Linked DNA regions of Homo sapiens: region 2 is linked to region 1. Evidence: fine-mapped expression QTL. A gene starts in region 1. The other region holds a variant in brackets. All regions are shown on one strand. Distances are between the middles of the regions.

Region 1 (12,337 bases):
GTGCCTGGCCTATATGTTAATATTAGCTTTTTAAAATCAGGATCCAGAGCCAGGCATGGTGGCATGCACTTGTAATGTAACCTCCAAGCTACTCGAGAGGCTGAGGCAGGAGGATTACTTGAGGTTGGGAGCTGGAGGCTGCAGTGAGCTATGACTGCGCCACTGCACTCCAGCCTGGGTGACAGAGAGAGCCCCTGTCTCTTTAAAAAATAATAATAATCAGGATCCGAATGAGGTCTGCATGATGAGACTGTGATATGTTTCTTCAGTTTTTCATCTGTAGGACTGGTACTCATTCTCTCTGTCTTCCATGTGGTGTTTTTGTTGAAGCTGGGTCCCTTTACCTGTAGGAGAGCTTCCTATAATGTGTAGCATGCTCCTTGTCCCCTGAATCCTATAAATTCATAGTTGTATCCAGAGGCTTGATCTAATTCAGTTTTGATTTTTTTCACACAACAGCACATTGGAGATGCTATTGGAAATTTCTGGGAGGCACGTGGTCTGGTGAATTTCCTTTTGTAATACTGGCAGTCATTGATATTCAATGACTTTAAGGTAGTATTTTTTTTTTTTTTTTGAAACATGGTCCCTCTCTGTCTCCCAGGCTAGAGTGCAGTGGCTCAATTATAGCTCACTGCAGCCTTGACCTCCAGGCTCAAGCAATCCTCCTATCTCAGCCTCCCAAGTAGCTGGGACCACAGGTGCCCACCACCAGCTCAGGCTAATTTTTTTTGTAGAGATGAGGTTTCACTCTGTTGCGCCGGCTGGTCTTGAACTCCTGGGCTCAAGCGATCCTCCTGATCTCCCTGTCTTGGTCTCCCAAAGTGCTGGAATTACAAGCATGAGCCACCACGCCCAACCCTTAAGGTAGTATTTTTAGTTACAGTAAAAACCTTCCGTATTCACCCTGTTACAAGTGGTGCCTAGTTTGGTGTTGGGTGGAAAACTACCCATCTCAGGGCATTGTTTTTCCTTTTTCTTGCTTTTTCTTGATTGTAGCTGGTTTTCCTCCTCTGTTAATTATTTGGGTAGTATATTTTCATTAGAGAAAAATTGAAAAGCAGATCTAAACAAAAAGATAAATATTAAAATAAAACTGTGCCAAATTCTATCACCTAGTGATAACTCCTAAGATTTGGGACATTTTCTTCCCGATTTTCTTGTATGCAAAAAAATACAGGCATCCCTGTGACATCGTTAAAAAAGAAAGGGGTCACACTTCACATGCAGTTCTAGGAGCTGCTATTTTCAATTTGTGGTATGTCTGAAGCCCCCTTTGAGGATCTGGTGGGAGGGACATGGCCTTCCTCCCTGCCTGTCCATGGGTCACACTGGGCCGGGTGCAGGGAAGGACAGGCGGCCTCTGGTGCGGCCCAGCTGCCAAGTTTTTCAAAGGAAATAAGGGCTTTTGGTTGGCAGGGCGGTTGCTTTCACATCTGTTCTTTTAGGATTCTCTGCTGTTACTCAACACACCATGACCCCAGCTGCCCCTTTCCTTCTCCAAAGCCCCGTCTCCCAGGCGTGGCAGAGATCGGGGCCCTGGGGATCATGGGAGTCAGGCCCCTGCCCTTGAGTGGGCTTTGTCGCTTACATGAAGTCGGGCTGTTCATCTTTCCTTGTTGTGGCATTGGAACTCAGCCAAGCAGCAGCGATTTAGGAGGGGCAGTAGCCGCAGGGTGCCGGGTTTAATGGGAAAGATGCTGTTTACTTAGAATATGTGTTCATTTGGAGTGGCTTTGGGGCTTACCCCAGGCCACCCCTTAGGACCACCACTGATTAGGGGTCAGAAGGCGCTAGTGGACCCGGGCATTTTCTTATGTTCCTAGCCTGCACAGGAACAGATCCCTGCACATCCCTGAGCCCACAGCTGAGAAGAGATGTGGGCAGAGGCCTGGAGGAGGTGGGTGGATGCACTGGAATGTTCCCCGCCTCCCAGCGTGAAAGATGCATCTGGGAGGAGGGGGAGTGTCTCCATCGAGCTGTGCTGCCTCTGCGAGTCCCTCTCCCTGGGGAGCTCACCTCAGTCCCAAGTGTGGAAGAGCTGGGGGGCGTGAAACCACACGGAGTCAGCCCTGCTCTGTCCTCCCACGTAGGGTGAGCAGGAGGGGACGCTCACACGGCTGGCTGCACTGTGTTATTGTTGGGAGTATCTGGGTACAGGTCAATCTGGCAGAAATGTCGTGAGGTCCTGTGGTGCTGGGGAGAGGTGGTCCTTGCCCTCAGCCAGATGGGTCTGATGGAGGAGAAGACAGGACCTTCAGTCACTCCTGAGCAGGGAGGGTGCTGCATGAATAAGTTCAGGTTCTTTGAGCTGCAAGTACCAGAAACCCACTGTAACCAAAGGGAAAGGGAGAAAGAGAGGACTTGAGACTTTGTGGGGATTCAGGCATGGCTGGATCCAGGGGCTCAAATGGTATCATGAAGACTCTGCTTCTCTCTCCATTTCTCTGTCTTGGCTTCCTTTTCAGGCCAGTTCTTCCACAGAGAGGTTGTATTTGTAATCTATTGCTGTGTAACAAATTATTCCAATTACCTCATAATTTCTGTAGGTCAGGAGTTCAGGCTGAGCTGGGTGCTTCTGGCTGGGGTTCTCTGATGAGGTTGCAATCAAGCTGCCTGTCAAGCTGCAGTCATCTGAAGGCTTGACTGGGGCTGGAGGGTCTGCCTCCAAGGCAGCTTTGTCACATGCAGGGTGGGTTGGTGCTGGCTGCTGGCGGGAGGCCTCCGTTCCTCGAACACAGATCCCTCCTTGGGGCTGCTTGAGTGTCCTCGAGCCATGGTGTCTGGCTTCCCCTAGAGGGAGAGATCCAAAGGAAAGCTGAGTGGAAGCTTCTGAGATCTTTCATGATCTCAGAAGCCGCATATTGTGGTTTCCACGATATTTTATTGGTCACACAGGTGGTGTGGGAGGGGACCATTCACAGACATGAGTGCCAGGGGACAAGGGTCACTGGAGGCTGACTGCCACTGTGGCAAAGATGGCCCCAGTGGCTCGTAGCTCACACCTACTGCCAAGTGAATGAGAACACTTTCCCACAGTCCCAACAAAAGTCCTGGAAGTGAATTTCACAGGACCACCTGAGTCTCACACCCATTCCTCCATATACGCTAGTTGTGAGTCCACCCCTGCAGGGCTGGTTCCCCATAGGAACAGGGAGCTGTTACCAAAAGTGGACATGACATCCTCTGTGGAGAGGTCTATGGCATTGTGGCCTAGAGGAGGTGATGGTGGGGCACTGGGGAAGGCTTCCTGGTAGAGGCGGCACCAGTACCTGGCGGGATGGGTAGCATTTTGAGCATTCCAGGGACACTAAGGCCTGAGCAAAGAAATGGAAGAGTCAGGCAGCTGGGTAGCAGGTGGAGGCAGATAAGGATGGAAAAGTGAGTTGGGCCAGGTGGGGGTCCCCGAGAGGCAGGAGGAGGAGGCAGGACTTGCCTCTGGAGGCACAGGCAAGCCATGGAAGTTGTTTGAAGGAGGGGCAGGCACGTCGCAGAGCCTAGGGATTTAGGGTTTAGAGCGGGGAGAACGCCTGGCTGGCCTCCTCCCTGCTGGCTTGCACCCAGCACCCACCATGTGCCTTGTCGGCATTTCTCACAGCCCCCCACGGGCTCCCAGCAGAGTGGGCCACATCTCCTGACTTTACAGAGGGACTCCCTGAGCCACCAGGGTCCCCTAGCTCCGCCAAAGTCTCTCCCTGGAGCCCCTGACTCCAGAGCTCTCAGACAGGAATAATAGCAGGACCTTCCTGAAGGCTCCTCTTCATCCTGCCAGGACGATAGGCGAGGTTGGCGACAAGTGGCCAGCCCAATTGCTCAGACCCTCCCAGGGCTCCTCCCGGTGCCGTGAACCCCCGACCTTAGGGGAAGGAAGAGGTGACTGTGGCATGGACGGTGGTTTTTGTTCTCATATCCCCTGGCCCCTACAGAGACGTGCCCAGAGTTCCAAGCCCACTGGGTGCTGGGGCTTTCCTTCCCCCAGTAAGGGCTCGACATCTAGGTTTGTGTGGCAGGGCCAAGCTGTTTGCTCAGCACTCAGTGTTATTTGTCCCTTGGCTGACTGACAGCTTGACTGTCTGCTTCGTTTTGGCTGCAGTTTGAGTCTCTCCTACTGACTGTTTCATGGCCTCATCTTGAGCCCCCATTGTTGCCCAGGGTAGGAAGTCCTTCTCCCCTAAACTCTGGGCCACATATGCCTGGACCCTGCTGGGTACTTCTCCTCAGATCTCTTTTTTTTTTTTTTTGAGACAGGGTCTCACTTTGTCACCCAGGCTGGAGTGCAGTGGTGTGATCTCAGCTTACTGCAACCTTTGCTTCCTAGGCTCAAGCGATCCTCCCACCTCAGCCTCCCGAGTAGCTGGGATTCAGGTGCCCGCCACAATGCCTGGCTAATTTTTGTATTCCTCCCACCTCAGCCTCCTGCGTAGCTGGGATTCAGGCGCCTGCCCTCAAGCCCGGCTAATTTTTGTATTTTTATTAGAGACGGGGTTTCACCATGTTGGCCAGGCTGGTCTCGAACTCCTGGCCTCAAGTGATCCACCCTCCTCAGCCTCCCAAAGTACTGGGATTACAGGTGTGAGCCACCATGCCCTGCCGGCTTCTCCCCAGAGCTTTATGCCATGCCTTTGATGGGCACCTCTTACCTCCTCCCAGCCTAGGAACTTGCATGAAAGGGAACTATGTCCAAGTCAGTTTTGTGTCCCTAGCACCAGGGAAGAGGATGGGGGTTGCTGAGAGGGACAGGAAAGGATTGGGGTTGTGCTGTGTGCCCTGGCGCCTCTACCAAGCAGAAACCAGCCTTCCCTGTCTGCTACTGTGAAAGCCCAAGGTTGCCCTTCTTTGGGGGAGTTGAAAGAAAGCGGGTGTTTGTTCAGCACACTTGGGAGCACTGTGTGCCAGGGCTGGGAGATCTTGGGTGAGGGTACTCACCATGCTCATTACCTTGTAATGGGGTTAGGGGTAGCCTGTCCCTATGGAAGCTTGTCCTTGTTCCCAGGGAGGGTCAGGAGCATGGGTTGTGAAGTCAGGTAGATCTGAGCTTGAATCCTGGCTCTGCCTTTTCATAGCTGTGTGTGCTTGGGCCAGCAATGTGGTGTCTCTGAGCCTTGGTGCCTTATTCTACAGAGGGATGATAGCAGGGCCTTCCTCAGTGGGGCTGCCAGGGAGTGCCATGAGGCTGTGTGTGTAAAGTCCTGGGTGATGCCTGTGTGGATCCCAGGGAGCATTGACCTGTGTGTGCTCAGATCCTGCCTGCCGGGACCTCCTAGACAGCGTGAGGGGTGGGGTGTCAAGTGGTGGCTGGTGGCTGCGGCTGCGGGGAGCAGCTGGTTTGAGGCAGTGCTGAGGCTGCAGCAGGGAAGAGACTCACCGCCACATCTTCCAAGGAGAAAGCTGGGCGGGCAGCCTGGGAGGGCAGGAGGTATTGCTCAGTGGGACAGGAACCTTGATTATCAAACGGCAGGGTTTACTGTGCCCCTCTCATTATCAAACTGCAGGGTTTGTTATCATACAGCCTCTGCTGTATGGCCAGTTTATCTTCACACACTCCCTGCTCTATGGCCGGTGCTGGAAAGCCCAGGGCCCCATAAGCTCCCAGCAGGCAGTGGGGAACCCCCCTCCTGTGTCCAGGCATCTACATGTGTCCTCTCCAAGCTGCCCCTTTTCTCAAGCCGAGATCATCTTGCAGAAATGTTGGTCAGGGTGGGTCGCTCCCCACCTGCCATTCCCCTGGACTTGCCCTGCCTCCTATGCCCCTTCCCCTTGGCCCCCGATATCTCCCCCAGCGGCTCCATCTCCACGCCGCGCTTTCCTCAGGGTTTGAGCATGTGTCTCATCAGCCTCTCGCCCACTGGGCCAGGTCAGATCTGTTCTTTTTCCTGAATCTACTGAGCATCCAGCACCATGCCCTCCTGCATACGCAAACGGGTATCCCTCAATACCCATTTAAAAATGGACGGGTAATTTACATACAGGCAAGTGCACAAACCTTCAATGTACAGGGTAATGAGTGTACTTAGGCACTCGCCTGTATAACCAGCACCCACAGGGAGATTTAGAACCTCCTCAGCCCCCAGAAGTTTCCTGTGTGCCCCTTTCCAATCAGCGGCCTCCCTAGAGGCAACCGCTGTCTTGCTGTCTGTCACTGTAGATTAGTTTCATCATTTCTGAAGTTTCATATAAATGGAAACGTGCTGAATGTGTCTTTTGTGGGTGGGTCTTTCACTGTCCTTGCCATCTTGGATATTCATTCATGTTGTGTGTTAGCAGTGATCTGTTCCTTTTTACTGCTGAGTAATTTTCTGTTGTGTGAATATATGAAAATTTGTTTATCCATTTACTCATTGCAGGATGTTTGGGTTTGCAGTTTGACTGTTAGGATGAAAGCTTCTCTGAACACTTGGATAGAAGTCATTTGTGGACACATGTACTCATTTCTTTTGGGTAAATACCTGAGATTGAATTGCTGAGTCATTGGGGAAGCATATGGTTTGCTTTTGTCCACACTGCCAGGCAGTTTTCATCATGGTGGCTCCATTTTACATTCCCACTAGCAGTACATGAGAGTGAAGAGCTGCTTCTCCTCCTTGTCAACACTTGGTATTTTCATTTTAATTTTAGCCATTCTAGTGGTACAGTGGAATCTCTATATGGTTTTAATTTGCTGGTGGCTAATGATGTTGAGTATCTTTTTCATGTGCTTATTGGTCATTTTGGCATCCTCTTTGTTGAAGTACCTGTGTAAGTCTCTTGTTCATCTTTTAATTGGGCCATTTGTCTTTTTCTTATTGGTTTGTGGGAGGTCTTTTTTTTTTTTTTTTTTTCTGAGACAGAGTCTCACTCTGTTGCCCAGGCTGGAGTGCAGTGGTGTGATCTCGGCTCACTGCAACCTCTGCCTCCCAGGTTCAAGTGATTCTCCTGCCTCAGCCTCCCAAGTAGCTGGGATTACAGGCTCATGCCACCACGCCTGGCTAATTTTTGTGCTTTTAGTAGAAACGGGATTTTGCCATGTTAGCCAGGCTGGTTTCAAACTCCTGACATCAGGTGATCCGCCCACCTTAGCCTCCCAAAGTGCTGGGATTACAGGCATGAGCCACCATGCCAAGCCTGGGAGATCTTTATATATGCTAGGGAGGAGTCTTTTGTCAGTCATATAGGATGTGACTTTCTCCTAGTCAGTGGCTTGTCTTTCCCCTCTTTTGATGATGATGATGTCTGTTCCTTCTCTGCTCTGGGACATTTGCTAGGGAGACATTTGCTGATAGGAGGGCGACCCTGATGGGGAGGATCCCCTGAGGTCTCCCACTCCCTCCTGTGGCCTCTGGAGCAGCCTGGAACCCTGTGTGAGTCCTATGCCTGTCTCCACCAGATGGCAGACCTTAGATCACCTGCTAGTTCCCTGCATGGGGCCTGGCACAGAGACAGCACCTAACATGTTCAGTTCCTCCTGATCAGTATGTGTGGGATGTCTACTCTGTGACCAGCTGGGGCTGGACGCTGGGGACACAGCTGTTGATATTACAGCTGCCCTCCCATCTCTGCCCTCCTCAAGGATATAACCTAGGAAAGACAGACCAGCAACCAGTGGTCACAGCACAGAGGTGCTGTGATGGAGGAAGGTGCAGGGGTTAGAAGACCAGAAGAGGGGTGTCTGACCCTGGATGTGGGAGGTGGAGGAGGTACACCATTGCTTTGAGGAGCTCGTAATCCCAGGATGCCAGTCACATGCTCAGAAGGGCTCCCTGAGGACCAGGTGCTGCTGTGGCCAGCGGGCTGGAGGCCTCCCCCTCTGTTTTGGGAGTCTCCACTCTCTCCTCTTAGCCTCTCCTGATCTGCTCCCTCGCCACTGAGCGCCCCATGATCCCAGTGGGGAAACTGAGGCCTGGCATAGCAGAAGGGGTGCTGGGGTTTGATTCCCAGCCTCATGGTGCCCAGGGATGTTGGGGGCTCTCCAGGGACTCTGATTTTGGAATAGGAGCCCCAAGGATGGGCCTGCCCCTGCCCTGCTCCCAGCATGGGAGCGTAGGTGAGATGGAGAGGCAGTGGGCTGGGCTGGAAGATCTTTGACCTCTCCTGGGCCCCTCTCAGAGGTGGACGGGGCCACCTTACTACATAGATAGGGAAATTGAGTCCCAGGAAGGCGCGGGGGGCCTGTCTGTGAGCGTCAGAGCCCACAGGAGGCTCAGGCCAGGCCGCTAATTGCTAATTGCTCACTAAGGATGCATTTGCTCCCCACTTTGAACAGTTGTCTTGGGGCTTCTAATGGAGGTTTTTGGTGCTTGTTTTATTATTATTTTTTCAAAATTGTTCCAGCTTCAAGCTTCAAATTTCCATGAAGTCATTGGAGCCCGACAGCTCCCAGGCCTGGCAGCTCCCAGGCTGCGGAGAGCAGCACTGTGGCTGGGGGAGGGGGCCCTGCACACCCCGAGAGGCTGGGCTGTGGGCTGTGCCTTAGCCTTGCTGCCGCCGCCGCCGCTGCTGCCGCTGCCGGAGCAGGAAGTGGTGGGTCCCAGATGTGACTCACTCTCATTAGGTAGCGTGGAAGGAGCCTTCGGATGGGTGAGCCTGGGCGCGTCTGAGGAAGGGCAGGCGGGGGCCGGGCCACCTCCCTGCAGACCCTGGCCGGCTGCTGGGGCCGGGGAGGAGAGCCAGGTAAAAGTGGGGTGTGGGGATGGAGTGTCACCAGTCCTAGTGGCTTGAGCCCCAGGGGACGGGGCTGGACAGTGGGTGGGAAGCAGCTCACCCGGCAGCCTGGCCTGGGAGTGCACTGGGCAGGGTCTGGGCTGGGGGAGTAGGAGGCTCCGTGAGCCTACTGGGCAGATGGCTGGGAGAGGCGGCCCTTCAACAGGGGACCAGAGGCGACTTGTCACTGGCTTTTCCCAGCCTGACAAGAAAGTGCGGTTGTGACCACAATGTTGTACATGTGGCCCGTTCCATCTGGAATTCTAGGAACCACAGACTCTCAAATGTCCACACTCCTTCTCGAGGGTGTAATTTTACATTTACAAGCACACATGACTTTTCTCAATGAAAGGAAACATTGGCAAGGGAAGGCCAATTCAACTAATTTTATGAAATTATAAAACAAAAAACAAACAAAACCTCTGAAAGGAGTGCATGCCTGAGGGTCAGGAAACCAAGATGCCTCCAAAAAGCAGACTGGTTTCCCTTTCCCTGCAATGCCTCTCCTCTATCCCCCAGGGACCGCATGGGCCATCTGGAGTGGGTCTTTCTGGAGCGGGTCTTTCTGGAGCTTTCTATGCATTCATCTAAACATGTATGTACAGAGGGTGAGGCAGTTGCCTCTTCTCTGTGTCATCACATCAGGGTCAAGGGCAGGGACATCTGTGGCTGGGGGCTTCCTCCCTGGACAGCCATTGCTGGAGAGGAGAAGGGAGGGCCGGGAGGGGGAAGCCAAGGGCCTGGAGGTAGGGGCCAGGCCGAGCCACCTACGACAGGGGCCCTGGGTCCAAGGCCTGGACGGGCAGCCAGTGTGGGCTGGATGTGTCTGGAAGGGCTATGTGACCGTGGGCCTTCACTAGCATCACCATCTTGCAGATGGAGGCTGTGAGGGGTGGACTCAACACCAGTGTTTCTCGGAGTGAGGACCGGGCTGCCCAGGGAATCACAGGGGGTTCTAGCCTGTGTGTGGAAGGACATGTTTAAAATCTAAGTATTTGTCTTGGGGAAAAAAAAATCTGTAAATAGGACATTGCCATTGTGACATCATGACTGTATTATTGTCTTAGACGAGGCCAAAGGAGACATAAAAGTGACAAGCCAGCCAATTTGAGAGGAAGTGCCAAGTGCCAGCCCTGCAGGAAGTGCAGGAGGCTGAGGGGGCTGCAGCTCAGGAAGGCGTTTGCTGCACAGCCTTCGCTTCCCACCCAGTTGTCTGTCTTCCCACCTCCAGAGGCCCTGGGTTCCCAAGGTTTACCTGCAGCTCCTGGTGCAGAGTGTGGGGGAGGGGAGGCTCTCAGATTGTTCCAGATTCTGTGGCCCTCAGAAGGGCAGGTGTGAGCTTTGTGGAGGTAGCGTCTCCGGTGGTATTTTCTTTCTTTCTTATTTTTATTTATTATTATTTTTTGAGATGGAGTCTCTGTCTGTTGCCCAGGCTGGAGTGCAGTAGTGACCCTCTTGGGTCACTGTAACCTTTGCCTCCTGGGCTTAAGCCGTCCTCCTCCCTCAGCCTCCTGAGTAGCTGGGACTACAGTTACCACACCACTACACCTGGCTAATTTTTGTATTTTTAGTAAAGTAAAGACGGGGTTTCACCATGGTGGCCAGGCTGGTCTCAAACTCCTGACCTCAAATGATCCATCCACCTCGACCTCCCAAAGTGCTGGGATTATAGGTGTGAGCCACCACCCCCAGCCTCTTTTCTTTTTTTAAGACAGGATCTCACTCTGTCACCCATGCTGGAGTGCAGTGGAGTGGTCATAGCTCACTGCAACCTTGAACTCATGAGCTCAGGCAATCTTACCGCCTCAGCCTTCTAAAGTGCTGGGATTACAAGCATGAGCCCGACGCCCAGCCTTCTAGTGCTGTTTTCATGAAAGAAGCAGCTGTTTACTAGCAGCTGTTTTCCGGGTGATGAGGGTGAAGGTGGTATTGCAGAACATCTTTGCCAGGAGTAGGTCTGGGAGGTTTGCTTGAGGGCATGGAGGTTGGTGTAGGGAGAGCTCAGGAAGTAGAAATTGGGCTGGAGTGTGGCCTCTGGACAGGCCACAGGAGAGTCTCAAAAGGAGAAAAGATCCCAGCACTTTGGGAGGCCAAGGTGGGCGGATCACTTGAGCCCAGGGGTTCGAGACCAGCCTGGGCAACATGGCGAAACCCCGTCTCTACAAAAAATACAAAAATTAGCTGGGTGTGGTGGCGTGTGCCTGTAGTCCCAGCTACTTGGGAGGCTAAGGCAGGAGGATCCTTTGAGCCCAGGAGTTGGAGGCTGTAGTGAGCCATGACTGTGCCACTGCACTCCATCCAGCCTGGGTGACGGAATGAGACCCTGTCTCAAAATAAATAAATTTTTCAAAAGAGACAAAAGTCCGACTCGATGGTTGCACTGGGGACATGCACCCCACTCTACAATTTATAGCTACTGATTTGACCCATTCCCCACCTCCTCCACCGCTCCATATGGTAGGTGCCGTTCACCTCCAGTTTACAGAGGAGACAGGGCCCAGAGGGGCTGTCTATCCTGAATAACCCAGCAGATCGGTCCTCAGGCATCCAGTTGTGCCCACCACAGTGTGGTCTGCTGCCACATTTGAGCCTGGAGTCAGGGCCAGCACACTGTGTCTTTGGCGAGATCAGATGGGGCAAAGCTGAGAACAGGGGCTCTGGTTGGTGCTGAGGGATTCGTGGGGGTGGTCCTTACTGGGAAGATGAGGAATTGGGCTCCTGTGAGGGCCTCCCCTACCCTGCCCTGTGCCTGGACTTCGCTGGGCCCACTGCGGGAGAGAAGAGGTAGGACGAGGCCTTCTGCGTGGCTGGGCCAGGGTGGGCTGTCTCACGTGCTTTCCTGGATGTGTGGTTGGGTCATGCCTTAGCCAGGAGGTAGGTGGTTTGTCCACTCCCTGTCATTGCAAGGGTCACAGAGGTGGCTGGGTGGCCTGACCCTCAGCACCGCTCCTTGCCTCCCTCCTGCTGTCCTGGAGGAAGAGGATGTGGACTTGTTCATACTGAGGTGACACAGCATCCTCTCTCCTACCTCTCCCACTGCCCAGGGAGAGAGCAGCGCTTAACTCCGCTGGAGAAAGTTCCAGGCCTTTGAGGGAGCATGCAGAGTGGGTCACAGTGGATGCCTGTATCAGAGCAGCCCATTCTAGCCTTTCATGGGGTGGGAGGGAGGCATTTACTACTTTTAAAAGACACGTGTGGCCAGGCACCGTGGTTCACACCTGCAGTCCCAGCGCTTTGGGAGGCTGAAGTGGGCGGATCACTTGAGCTCAAGAGTTTGAGACCAGCCTAGGCAACATGGCACAACCCCAACTCTAGGAAAAAATTACAAATATTAGCCAGCATGGTGGTGCATGCCTGTAGTCCCAGCTACGCAGGAGGATTGCTTGAGCCCAGGAGGTGGAGGCTGCAGTGAGCTGAGATCATGCCACTGTACTCCACTCTGGGTAATAGAGCAAGACCCTGTCTCAGATAGATAGATAGATAGATAGATAGATAGATAGATAGATAGATAGATAGATAAACAGATAGATAGACACATGTAGCCAAGAGCTGGAAGTTAGTTGGAACTGGAGAATGAGACCACATCTGAACACCAGCCAGAGAAGCAGGGGTCTTCCAGAGGTTATCCGGTCCAGCATCCCGCCTCCAGGCAGAACTGGAC
Region 2 (8,000 bases), 81 kb after region 1:
GTTTGGGCCATGACTGTAAATATGCCAGGTCTTGGATCTCTAAGCATCTGATGAAAGCTATGGGACCAGACCTTAAGTACACACACACACACACACACACACACACACACACACACACACAGCTGAACACAAAAGTCTTCATGTAATTTTAGTAGGTTCTTGGTCCCTCTAAAGGCTCATTATGGTATCCAAAGGACCCTAGATTAAAGACCTTTGTTACAGATATTTGGAAAAGCTTCCAGGCCATTAAGAATTACTAGGCTGGGCATAGTGGCTCACCCTTATAATTCTAGCACTTTGGGAGGCCGAGGCAGGTGGACTGCTTGAGCCCAGGAGTTTGAGACTGGTCAGGGCAACATGGTGAAACCCCGTCTCTACTAAAAATACAAAAAAATTAGCTGGGTGTGGTGACACACCCCTGTAGTCCCAGCTACTTGGGAGGCTGAGGCACAACAATTGCTTGAACCCTGAACGTGGAGGTTGCAGTGAGCCAAGATCATGCCACTGCACTCCAGCCTGAGCAACAGAGTGAGACTCGGTCTCAAAAAAAAAAAAAAAAAATTAAATATGTATTTGGGGGGATGGGACGCAAGTGAACGGAGATACTAGATTACTATATATACTCAAACTAAGTGACCATTTGGCCTATAATTGGCCAGATAATGGGCCTATGAACTGGCAAGAGTACTGAATTGTTCTAATGAACACAGGACTGATCTATTAAGCCAATTTGTAGATTCCTTAAATCTTAACATAATGTGCTGGGCTTTACTGAACTGTGGGTGATGGCACTGGTCATTCAAAAAGCTGAGTCTTCCTGCACACTTTTCACACACACACACACACACACACACACACACACACACACATTTTACTTCAACTGCCAAATGAACTGAATAAATATTACTTTAGGCCGTTGAGCTTTCCCTAGAAAAAAGTGGCAACGTAGAAATTCTAAAGAGCTAAGATACCAATTCCTTTCAATTATGATAAACCCTAACCTGCTTAAAAACACTCTGGGGACACACTTCTACTCTTCTTACTGTAAGAGAAAGATCAGAGGAAAATCATGCAGAAAAAAAACAAAAAACAAAAAACTGTGAAATTCTTTCCCATTAAGCAATGGTAAGGTCAGAAATATGCTGAAATAAACGGTTTTAGCCTAATTTTCACCAGATAAAAAGTTGGGAAAAGTTTCTATTTCTCGAAATAAGAGAGAATGTAATTCAGATTCTTTGGAGAAAGTGGAATATTACCTATAAACTCAACAGTAAAGAGCACTAAACACTGATATTCTTCATAAATCTCTGCTTATCAATATGTGGATGAAAAAAGGGACTAAGTAAAGACACTGTCTTTTTTTTTTTTTTTTTTTTTGAGATGGAGTCTCACTCTGTCGCAAGCTCTGCCTCCTGGGTTCACGCCATTCTCCGGCCTCAGCCTCCCGAGTAGCTGGGACTACAGGCATCCGCCACCACACTCAGCCAATTTTTTTGTATTTTCAGTAGAGACGGGGTTTCACTGTGTTACCCAGGATGGTCTTGATCTCCTGACCTTGTGATCCACCTGCCTCGGCCTCCGGAAGTGCTGGGATTACAGGTGTAAGCCACCACACCTGGCCATAAAGACACTATCTTATTTTATTTTTAGGAAAATAACTAATTAGGGTAACCAATTAGGGTCTAACCCTTATAGGTCAGGTGAGCACTACTGTGGTTATGTAAAACAAAGTAGAGGTAAAACAGATATTATCTAAACCAATTAAGTTTGTGGCGGTTGAATACATAGTAAATTTTAATATACATGGTTCCTTTCCCTGGAATCAACACACACCAGGACACTCCCTCAAATGGGAAAAACCTCATCTATAATAGGTATATATATTATAAGTTTTCAGGTCCTTGTAAATTTTCTATACTCTTCTTAAAGCTGAAGAAAATATGCTCAACAAATATAGCCAAAATGAACTCAGAGAGCAATTAACTTTCATCAAATTAGAAAATGTAATTAAACTTCTCTTTAGTATTTCTGGACAAGCCAATTTATTCTTTACTTTAGAGTACATGTGATATGGTTTGGCTCTCTGTCCCCACCCCAATCTCATGTTGAATTGTAATCCCCAATGTTGGGGGAAGGACCTGGTGGGAGGTGATTTGATCATGGAGGCAGATATCCCCCTTGCTGTTCTTGTGATAATGAGTCCTCACAAGATCTGGTTGTTTGAAAGTGTGTAGTGATAGGTTCCAAGGTGGCCGAATAGGAACAGATCCAGTCTACAGCTCCCAGCATGAGTGATGCAGAAGACTGGTGATTTCTGCATTTCCAACTGAGGTACTGGGTTCATCTCACTGGGGCTTGTCGGACAGTGGGTGCAGCCCACAGAGTGTGAGCCGAAGCAGGGCAGGGAATCACCTCACTCAGGAAGCACAAGGGGTTGGGGAATTCCCTTTCCTAGCCAAGGGAAGCTGTGACAGACTGTACCTGGAAAATCAGGACACTCCCACCCTAATACTGTGCTTTTCCAATGGTCTTTGCAAATGGCACACCAGATTATATCCCGCGCATGGCTCAGAGGGTCCCATGCCCACGGAGCCTCACTCACTGTTAGCACAGCAGTCTGAGATTGAACTGCAAGGCAGCAGTGAGGCTGGGGGAGGGGCGCCCACCACTGCTGAGGCTTGAGTAGGTAAACAAAGCCACCGGGAAGCTCGAACTGGGTGGAGCCTACCTCTGGGGGCAGGGCATAGCTGAACAAAAGGCAGCAGAAACTTCTGCAGACTTAAACGTCCCTGTCTGACAGCTTTGAAGAGAGTAGTGGTTCTGCCAGCATGGAGTTTGAGATCTGAGAACGGACAGACTACCTCCTGAAGTGAGTCCCTGACCCCCGAGTAGCCTAACTGGGAGGCACCTCCCTGTAGGGGCCAACTGACACCTCATACAGCTGGGTGCCCCTCTGAGATGAAGCTTCCAGAGGAAGGATCGGGCAGCAACATGTACCATTCTGCAATATTTGCTGTTCTGCAGCCTCTGCTGGTGATACCCAAACAGGGTCTGGAGTAGACCCCCAGCAAACTCCAACAGACCTGCAGCTGAGGGTCCTGACTGTTAGAAGAAAAACTAACAAATAGAAAGGACATCCGCACCAAAACTCCATCTGTATGTCACCATCATCAAAGACCAAAGGTACATAAAACCACAAAGACGGGGAGAAACCAGAGCGGAAAAGCTGAAAATTCTACAAATCAGAGCACCTCTTCTCCTCCAAAGGAACGCAGCTCCTTGCCAGCAACGGAACAAAGCTGGAGGGAGAAAGACTTTGATGAGTTGAGAGAAGAATGCTTCAGACGATCAGTAATAACAAACTTCTCTGAGCTCAAGGAAGATGTTTGAACCCATTGCAAAGAAGCTAAAAACCTTGAAAAAAGATTAGACGAATGGCTAACTACATTAAATAGGGTAGAGAAGACCTTAACTGACCTGATGGAGCTGAAAATCATGGCACGAGGACTACGTGATGCATGCACAAGTTTCAGTAGCCGATTTGATCAAGTGGAAGAAAGGGTATCAATGA[T/C]TGAAGATCAAATGAATGAAATGAAGCAAAAAGAGAAGTTTAGAGGAAAAGGAGTGAAAAGAAATGAACAAAGCCTCCAAGAAATATTGGACTATGTGAAAAGGCCAAATCTACATCTGATTGGTGTACCTGAAAGTGATGGGGAGAATGGAACCAAGTTGGAAAACACTCTTCAGGATATTATCCAGGAGAACTTCCCCAACCTAGCAAGGCAGGCCAATATTCAAATTCAGGAAATACAGAGAATGCCACAAAGATACTCCTCGAGAAGAGCAACTCCAAGACACATAATTGTCAGATTCACCAAAGTTGAAATGAAGGAAAAAATGTTAAGGGCAGCCAGAGAGAAAGGTCAGGTTACCCACCAAAGGGAAGCCCATCAGACTAACAGCAGATCTCTCAGCAGAAACCCTATAAGCCAGAAGAGAGTGGGAGCCAATATTCAACATTCTTAAAGAAAAGAATTTTCAACCCAGAATTTCATATCCAGCCAAACTAAGCTTCATAAGTGAAGGAGAAATAAAATCTTTTACAGACAAACAAATGCTGACAGATTTTGTCATCACCAGGCCTGTCTTACAAGAGCTTCTGAAGGAAGCACTAAACGTGGAAAGGAATAACCAGTACCAGCCACTGCAAAAACAGGCCAAATTGTAAAGACCATCAAGGCTAGAAAGAAACTGCATCAACTAACGAGCAAAATAACCAGCTAACATCATAATGACAGGATCAAATTCACACATAACAATATTAACCTTAAATGTAAATGGGCTAAATGCTCCAATTAAAAGACACAGACTAGCAAATTGGATAAAGAGTCAAGACCCATCAGTGTGCTGTATTCAGGAAACCCATCTCATGTGCAGAGACACACATAGGCTCAAAATAAAGGGATGGAGGAAGATCTACCAAGCAAATGGAAAACAGAAAAAGGCAGGGGTTGCAATCCTAGTCTCTGATAAAACAGACTTTAAACCAACAAAGATCAAAAGAGACAAAGAAGGCCATTACATAATGGTAAAGGGATCAATTCAACAAGAAGAGCTAACTATCCTAAATATATATGCACCCAATACAGGAGCACCCAGATTCATAAAGCAAGTCCTGAGTTACCTAAAAAGAGACTTAGACTCACACGCAATAATAATGCAAAACTTTAACACCCCACTGTCAACATTAGACAGATCGACGAGACAGAAAGTTAACAAGGATATCCAGGAATTGAACTCAGCTCTGCACCAAGCAGACCTAATAGACATCTACAGAACTCTCCACCCTAAATCAACAGAATATACATTCTTCTCAGCACCACACTGCACTTATTCCAAAATTGACCACACAGTTGGAAGTAAAGCACTCCTCAGTAAATGTAAAAGAACAGAAATTATAACAAACTGTCTCTCAGACCACAGTGCAATCAAACTAGAACTCAGGATTAAGAAACTCACTCAAAACCGCTCAACTACATGGAAACTGAACAACCTGCTCCTGAATGACTACCAGGTACATAACGAAATGAAGGCAGAAATAAAGATGTTCTTTGAAACCAATGAGAACAAACACACAACATACCAGAATCTCTGGGACACATTTAAAGCAGTGTGTAGAGGGAAATTTATAGCACTAAATGCCCACAAGAGAAGGCAGGAAAGATCTAAAATTGATACCCTAACATCACAATTAAAAAAATTAGAGAAGCAAGAGCAAACACATTCAAAACCTAGCAGAAGGCAAGAAATAACTAAGATCAGAGCAGAACTGAAGGAGATAGAGATACAAAAAACCCTTCAAAAAAATCAATGAATCCAGGAACTGGTTTTTTGAAAAGATCAACAAAATTGATAGACCACTAGCAAGACTAAGAAGAAAACAGAGAAGAATCAAATAGATGCAATAAAAAATGATAAAGGGGATATCGCCACTGATCCCACAGAAATAGAAACTACCATCAGAGAATACTATAAACACCTCCATGCAAATAAACTAGAAAATCTAGAAGAAATGGATAAATTCCTGGATACATACACCCTCCCAAGACTAAACCAGGAAGAAGCTGAATCCCTGAATAGACCAATAAGAGGCTCTGAAATTGAGGCAATAGCCTACCAACCAAAAAAAGTCCAAGACTAGATGGATTCACAGCCAAATTCTACCAGAGGTACAAAGAGGAGCTGGTACTATTCCTTCTGAAACTATTCCAATCAATAGAAAAAGAGGGAATCCTCCCTAACTCATTTTATGAGGCCAGCATCATCCTGATACCAAAGCCTGGTAGAGACACAACAAAAAAAGAGAATTTTAGACCAATATCCCTGATGAACATCGATGCAAAAATCCTCAATAAAATACTGGCAAACCAAATCCAGCAGCACATCAAAAAGCTTATCCACCACGATCAAGTTGGCTTCATCCCTGGGAGGCAAGGCTGGTTCAATATATGCAAATCAATAAACGTAATCCAGCATATAAACAGAACCAAAGACAAAAACCACATGATTATCTCAATAGATGCAGAAAAGGCCTTTGACAAAATTCAACAGCCCTTCATGCTAAAACCTCTCAATAAACTAGGTATTGATAGGACATATCTCAAAATAATAAGAGCTATTTATGACAAAACCACAGCCAATATCATACCGAAAGGCAAAAACTGGAAGCATTCCCTTTGAAAACTGGCACAAGACAGGGATGACCTCTCTCACCACTCCTATTTAACATAGTGTTGGAAGTTCTGGCCAGGGCAATCAGGCAGGAGAAAGAAATAAAGGGTATTCAATTAGGAAAAGAGGAAGTCAAATTGTCCCTGTTTGCAGATGACATGATTGTATATTTAGAAAACCCCATCGTCTCAGCCCAAAATCTCCTTAAGCTGATAAGCAACTTCAGCAAAGTCTCAGGATACAAAATCAATGTACAAAAATCACAAGCATTCCTATACACCAATAACAGACAAACAGAGAGCCAAATCATGAGTGAAATCCCATTCACAATTGCTTCAAAGAGAATAAAATAGCTAGGAATCCAACTCACAAGGGATGTGAAGGACCTCTTCAAGGAGAACTATAAACCACTGCTCAATGAAATAAAAGAGGATACAAACAAATGGAAGAACATTCCATGCTCATGGGTAGGAAGAATCAATATCGTGAAAATGGCCATAGTGCCCAAGGTAATTTATAGATTCAATGCCATCCCCATCAAGCTACCAATGACTTTCTTCACAGAATTGGAAAAAACTACTTTAAAGTTCATATGGAACCAAAAAAGAGCCTGCATTGCCAAGTCAATCCTAAGCCAAAAGAACAAAGCTGGAGGCATCACACTACCTGACTTCAAACTATACTACAAGACTACAGTAACCAAAACAGCATGGTACTGGTACCAAAACAGAGACAGAGAACAATGGAACAGAACAGAGCACTCAGAAATAATAACACACATCTACAACCATCTGATCTTTGACAAACCTGACAAAAACAAGAAAGGGAGAAAGAATTCCCTATTTAATAAATGGTGCTGGGAAAACTGGCTAGCCATATGTAGAAAGCTGAAACTGGATCCCTTCCTTACACCTTATACAAAAATTAATTCAAGATGGATTAGAGACTTAAATGTTAGACCTAAAACCATAAAAACCCTAGAAGAAAACCTAGGCTATACCATTCAGGACATAGGCATGGGCAAGGACTTCATGACTAAAACACCAAAAGCAATGGCAACAAAAGCCAAAATTGACAAATGGGATCTCATTAAACTAAAGAGCTTCTGCACAGCAAAAGAAACTACCATCAGAGTGAACAGGCAACCTACAGAATGGGAGAAAATTTTCACAGTCTATCCATCTGACAAAGGGCTAATATCCAGAATCTACAAAGAACTTAAACAAATCTACAAGAAAAAATCAAACAACCCCATCAAAAAGTGGGCAAAGGATATGAACAGACACTTCTCAAAAGAAGACATTCATGCAGAAGACACGTGAAAAATGCTCATCATCACTGGCAGTCGGAGAAATGCAAATCAAAACCACAATGAGATACCATCTCACACCAGTTAGAACGGTGATCATTAAAAAGTCAGGAAACAACAGGTGCTGGAAAGGATGTGGAGAAACAGGAACACTTTTACACTGTTGGTGGGACTGTAAACTAGTTCAACCATGTGGAAGACAGTGTGGCGATTCCTCAAGGATCTAGAACTAGAAATAGCATTTGACCCAGCAATCCCATTACTGGGTATATACCCAAAGGATTATAAATCATGCTGCTATAAAGACACATGCGCACGTATGTTTATTGTGGCACTATTCACAATAGCAAAGACTTGGAACCAACCCAAATGTCCAACGATGATAGACTGGATTAAGAAAATGTGGCACATATACACCATGGAATACTATGCAGCCATAAAAAGGATGAGTTCATGTCCT

What was found.
Region 2: its variant is fine-mapped to the expression of ADCY7 in whole blood (INTERVAL, PIP above 0.99).

Annotation. Positions count from the first base shown.
Region 1 is chr16:50,258,035-50,270,371 of GRCh38, forward strand. ADCY7 (adenylate cyclase 7) reads left to right here and starts at 8,517. Exons shown (of 26, transcript NM_001114.5): 1 at 8,517-8,646. RefSeq lists enhancers at 4,111-4,180, 6,414-6,593, 7,661-8,254, 8,200-8,289.
Region 2 is chr16:50,341,100-50,349,099 of GRCh38, forward strand. All of the region lies in intron 5 of BRD7 (bromodomain containing 7), which reads right to left. Among named protein-coding and RNA genes, the nearest start is that of BRD7, 24 kb to the right of the region's middle. The variant T/C (reference allele first, on the strand shown) is at 3,572.